2 separate regions of the Homo sapiens genome follow, and region 2 is linked to region 1. Evidence: fine-mapped expression QTL. A gene starts in region 1. The other region holds a variant in brackets. All regions are shown on one strand. Distances are from middle to middle.

Region 1 (2,747 bases):
GTGAAAGCACGGTAAGAATGACACATTTCTGTTTTTTGGTTTTTTTTTTAAAAAAGTATGAGTGTACAGTGGAGTGTTCCAGAGGTTACATGGTGTGCTAACCACAACAGTCTGACGTAGATCTGAGAATCTTCTATTAAACCAGGCATTAAAAAGATTTGCAAAAATGCAAGATGTCACTCTTATCATCTATGTTAACATGTAATGGATTTATTTTTTGTTTTTGGAAAAAAAAAACCAAGAGAAAAGAAAATAAAGTCATCTTTAGTTTCCTTAAATTCAAAGTCTGAGCCTGAAAATGGAAGTATCAAAGCTGATGGTTATACGTCAGTGAGAAAAAAATTTAAACCAAGCTGGGTGGGTCTTTACATGAGATAAACTATCTACAGGAAAGAATGACCACTAACTTCTGCATAATAAATGAGAGTGGATCTTTTAATTCTGAGATGGCAATGTACTTTACAAGGACCATTTACAGACTACATCAAACCTTTTTCTAGATAAAAAACGTACTTCAGTAACTTGCCTGAATTGAGAGAGCAAAACAGTCCGGAGAGAAAACTTAAAATGTTTCCACATTATCAAGCCCCCTTCAGAAGTACTGTGGTCTCGGCCCCTCCTTTGAACAGATGTCCGCTCGCCACAGTCCAATCAGGTTTAAAGCAAGAGTATTTGTACTGAAAACAAGCTTAAAGTGGGAAGACACACACAAAGCAGGCCTGTATCATTCCTTTGGTTTCAGTTTTCACGATGCACCCTTGAGGCTAGGCACGCTGATTCAACACACTTGGAGAGCTTCACCGAAACACACTAAACACACAGTGATGAACTGTGCCCTGGCAGAGATGACCTGGCAAAATTCTCAACTTCTTCCCTGAGGCAGTGCACCCGCAGTTCTCGGCGGCGAAGTCTTTGGGGCAGAAGTCCCGAGCCTTCAGAACGGCAGGCTTCTCCCCCTCAGGACTCCAGTCCCCGCGGCCAAGGCTGTCGCTGCGGGGGCCCCGCGCGGGACTGGCCAGGCTCTTCCATTAACCCTGTCTGGTCCGGCCGATCCCGCCGCGACCCGAGCGCCTCTCGGCCCCGCAGCACAGGGCGCCCAGGACCCGCCACCCTCGCCGCCCGTTCCCCTCTCCGGAGAGCCCGGCGGGGCCGTCAGGCTGCCGAGACAAAGGGTACCGCGGCGCCAGAGGCCGAGGCCCAGCCGCGCCTGCCTTCCTCTTTCTCCCGCCCACTGCCAACCTCCAGTCGCCCGCAGAACCTCCGCTGCCTCGGCGCGACCCCATCGCCACCCCGGGGCTGCCGCTCGGGACCGGCAAGCCGGGTAGCCGCGAGGCGGCCGCGGCATGCTAGGGCCGAGGAGGGGGCGGCGGCCGCCACCATGTCTGCCCGCCCCTCCCAGAAGCAGTGTGCCCAGCGGACAAAGCGCAGCGGCGGCGCGGGCGCCCAGGCCGACCCCGCCGACCCCCGCGGAATAAGCGGGGCCAGGAGCCCCGGAAACCCGGCGCCTTAATGCAATAAACAGGAAATCGCGGGGATGATCTGGGTTCCGGGGGAAGTGGAATTATTTTTTACCAGCGAAGAGATCAACTTCCACATCCGGTGGTAACAGGGCCCTACACAGACCCGCACTGACCTGGAAAAGCTTCGGGAGCGGCGACGGGAAGGCAGCAGGAGGTGGTGCGGGGACCCGAGGCGCCTCGTACCCGGCCGGGCTGACGCGGCCCCGCTACACACAAAGCGCTTCAGCTGCACAGGGCGCTATTTTCCGAAAATGCCGCGTCTGGTCGGCGCCCAAAATCCCCACCGAAAAGTCCCCCGTGCTGCGCGCGGAGGGACACATGGTGTGCGAGTGAGTCAAGCTCCCAGCATCCCTCCCGGACCCGGCCCTCTTCAGCTCATCGCCCGAGGATTTTCCGCCTCTGCCCTCGTCGGCAGATCCTGCTCCTACCCACTCCCTAGCTGTGTTCCCGCGGGGAGAGAGGGGAAAGAGGGTCTGATTTTTTAACGAAGGGAAAGAAAATATGCCATTTCTAGCGCTTCAGCCACACAAAGAAAGCGGCGGAATGATCCGCTCTCGGCGACCGCAAGTCCCGGCTCGCCCGGCGCCTGCGCGGCAGCGGGGGTGGGAGCTGCGGACGGCCATGTGCGCGGCGGAGAGGCCGGGTGGCCACCGAACCTTCCCGCCTGTTCTGCGGTGGGTAGGAGTTTGGAAACTAATGTTCCTGTGCTAACCTTCGTGTCTCTGTGACATGACTGTTGAAAGACGGAGAGTGCGGAATCTTTGGAGTTTTAAGCTTGCCAACTGTGCGGCCTAGCAGAATCCTGGGAGACGGAAGGACAGCCAAGAGGCTAGGATTTACCTTTAAGTGTCCCTAGATTCAACTAGGCAGACTGGGACGGGAGACGCTGTGAAGGTACCAGGGAAGGAACGAGTGAGGTTCCTTTTCCACTTTTTCATAAACTCAACAGTCAGGTTCATGACGAAGATATAGATATTTCTGTAGATTTTTTCCCCAACATTCTAATTATGCCTCATGTTTCGTAGATCCTAGTAACTGCTTGGATTACTGCCACCTCAGAGGTAGAGATCTGTTTTTCCGTGGCTGGAATGCCAAAAATTTTGTTGTATTTTATTAAGAAAGTAGCAAAAGTTTGGAGATTTGCAAAGTTAAAAAAAAAAAAAGCATTATGAACTTAATCTAGATGTGATTTGCTAAGGAACTTAATATATTGATATGTTTTTCACA
Region 2 (3,022 bases), 43 kb before region 1:
AACATAGATGAACTGAACATCAAAATCTCCATTTATACACTATGACATGACATTTTCCCTTCCTGTCTTTATTAATAAGTCAGTTCTCAATTATCCCTTCAAAAGAGTGTGCTATGGTTAATTTAAAATTACAGATCATACAAAAGCAATTTATATTTGGATTTTAGAATCCATTTTCCTTTCTCATTAAGTTTTTACTTAGAATAAAAGTAGTTTAAATTCTCCAAATACATCTGGTAAAAGATAGAAGAGGTAAGTAGCAGAGAAAAGCTGGCCTAAATTTTTATTTATTTATTTTTTTCTTGACACAGAGTCTCGGCCTGTCACCCAGGCTGGAGTGCAGTGGCACGATGTTGGCTCACTGCAACCTCCGCCTCCTGGGTTCATGTGATTCTCCTGCCTCAGCCTCCCAAGTAGCTTGGACTACAGGCATGCACCACCACACCCAGCTAATTTTTCTATTTTCAGTAGAGACAGGGTTTCACCATGTTAGCCAGGCTGGTCTCAAACTCCTGACCTCAAATGATCTGCCCGCCTTGGCCTCCCAAAGTGATGGGATTACAGGCATGAGCCACCCCACCCAGCCAAGCTGGTCTAAAATTTAAAACTGGCAACTAATTGTTTTTACTGGAGGGTTTGCAGCAATAAAATTTTTCATAAAAGTAAATAAAGTGCAAGATATTGTCATCTGTTGTTGGTGCAAATTAAACTAAACTTAGCATAAATTTTTTTGCAATAGTAAATGTGTTCAAAATTTTAAAAAACAAATTTTCTGCCCTCCTACATGCAATGTATATTTAAGTTCTTGCAGAAAGTAAACAATTCACATTCTATGAAAATACTAAAAACAGTAATAGTATTACGAATAGACTGTCTCATTAGAGGCTAGAGGCCAGGTGCGATGGCACATCCCTGTAATCCCAGCAGTCTGGGAGGCTGAGGCAGGTGGATCCTTGAGGCCAGGAGTTCGAGACCAGCCTGGACAACATGGTGAAACCCTATCTCTACTAAAAATAAAAAATTGGCTGGGCATGGGGGCTCACACCTAGGGTCCCAGCTACTCAGGAGGCTGAGGCACAAGAATCACTTGAACCCAGGAGGCGGAGGTTGCAGTGAGCCGAGATCATGCCACTGCACTCTAGCCTGGGCAACAAAGTAAACTCTGTCTCAAAAAAAAAAAAAAAAACCAGGAAAGAATATCTTGTGCCTTGAATTTAATATATCTGAAAAGGCTAATGTCCCAGCCTGGGATGTGAGGTGTGCATGGGTGTGTATGTATTTGTGTCTTCTTGAATAAGAAATATTGAAATATATGTCAGAAAAAAGATTATGACAGTAGAATATAGGTAAATTAAGATTTGAATGTATCACAAACATTCAAATTCAAGGGATGACAGTTCTGAGAAGAAAGTTTCCAAACCCAGAAAGACTATCCAGCTGGAAGATTACTCAATTATGTCATACAGTATCCTAAGTAAGGAAAAGCAGAATTTTAGGCCCATGGGGAAGGGAATATATGGAATCCCTGAGATTTACAATGAAAAAATGTGCCTGGGGTATAAATTTATCTCAAAAAAAG[T/G]ATATACTCTGAGGGTTAGGTAAGTAGTCAAGAGAAAATAAATTATAAAGAGAGTAATGGCAGGTTGATTAGTGTATCTCTACCTGGTATGAACAACTATTACAGGTTGAGTATCCCTAATCCAAAAATCTGAAATCTGAAACTTTTTAAGCATCAAAGGAAATACTCATTAGAGCATTTCAGATTTTGCATTTTTGCATTAGGGATGCTGAACCAGTAAGTATTAATGCAAATATTCCAAAATCTGAAAAAACCCAAAATCGGAAACATTATGGACCTAAGTATTTCAGATAAGGGATACTCAACTTGCACTCAATAAGGAAGAGAAAGGAGCGTATGTGTGAGAAGGAAGTTGGCAAATGGGGCTTGAAAAAGTTATTTCTGCCAGAAAGAAACAAAATGTTCTACATCATTAAAAGGGATAAGAAATCTAAAAGGGGTAATTATAAGAAAAGCTGTCCATGAAAATAAACAGAATTATGCCTATAATTTTTAGTAGATTAGCTACGATGGGAATAACCAAGCACAGAAGAGGTAACCAGGGACAGATACTAATACTTGGAGGCTTGCACAATAATTAGGTGAGATATACATATCCCAAACAGGCCTTCGTCACAAGGCAAGAAAGAATTTCTTAGAATTGTTTCATTTGTAAGGATAAAAATAATCTATATTATGGCAAGGCGCAGCAGCTTACACCTGTAATCCCACCACTCTGGGAGGCCGAGGTGGGTGAATCACTTGAGGTCAGGTGTTCGAGACCAGCCCGGCCAACAGGGTGAAACCCTGTCTCTACTAAAAATTCAATCCAGCCTGGGCAAGAGTGAGACTCCATCTCAAAAAAAAAAAATAATCTATATTATATCCTGTAGTAAAGAATAGGAAAAACAACCACATGTACTTGTGGGATTTATATGGGTTTTTTAAATACACTTCTCTGTGACACTCGCAACATTTTCATCCTTGAATTTCTGATTTCCTTTCCTTTTTTTCTCCTATTCTCTCATACCTTGATGGAGTCACTGAAAGCCAAGATACTCCTCAATCCTGCTTAAAGACGCTAAGATCTATAGAGATTACTGATCTCCAATGAGGCATTTTTTCCTAGATAATATGTAACTGCTGGACAGTAAAAATTAACATCATATTCAACAGGGAAGAAACCTGCAAAAATAATTTCCTATTAAAGGCAGGATAAAGCAAAAAGAAACCGACCTCTCTCCTACAGAAGTACGGTAAAATCTAAACTGGTCACACTAACAAATACAGCATTTATACTCTGAATGATATAAATTTGGCTTTACGATGAAATTTATCTTTCCAAAAATCTACATTTTTAAATAGGTTTTACACAGGTAATATAAAATCAGTTTGCATTCATTCAGCATACATACTGCCAAATGGTTTAGATATCTGAGTATCTTTTGTGAAGTGAGAGTTTAG

What was found. PIP is the estimated chance that this variant, and not a neighbour inherited with it, causes the effect.
Region 2: its variant is the best candidate, but not a certain one, in a credible set for the expression of GABPB1-IT1 in whole blood (INTERVAL, PIP 0.64).

What each region holds. Positions count from the first base shown.
Region 1 is chr15:50,353,352-50,356,098 of GRCh38, forward strand. It overlaps GABPB1-IT1 (GABPB1 intronic transcript), which reads right to left and starts at 1,528. Exons shown (of 1, transcript NR_026891.1): 1 at 1-1,528. It overlaps GABPB1 (GA binding protein transcription factor subunit beta 1), which reads right to left and starts at 1,847. Exons shown (of 9, transcript NM_016654.5): 1 at 1,634-1,847. It overlaps GABPB1-AS1 (GABPB1 antisense RNA 1), which reads left to right and starts at 823. Exons shown (of 1, transcript NR_024490.1): 1 at 823-2,747. RefSeq lists enhancers at 831-890, 1,629-2,252, 2,321-2,400 and silencers at 1,021-1,230, 1,241-1,490, 2,071-2,120.
Region 2 is chr15:50,309,807-50,312,828 of GRCh38, forward strand. The region is part of intron 1 of GABPB1 (GA binding protein transcription factor subunit beta 1); the gene reads right to left. Among named protein-coding and RNA genes, the nearest start is that of GABPB1-AS1, 43 kb to the right of the region's middle. The variant T/G (reference allele first, on the strand shown) is at 1,580.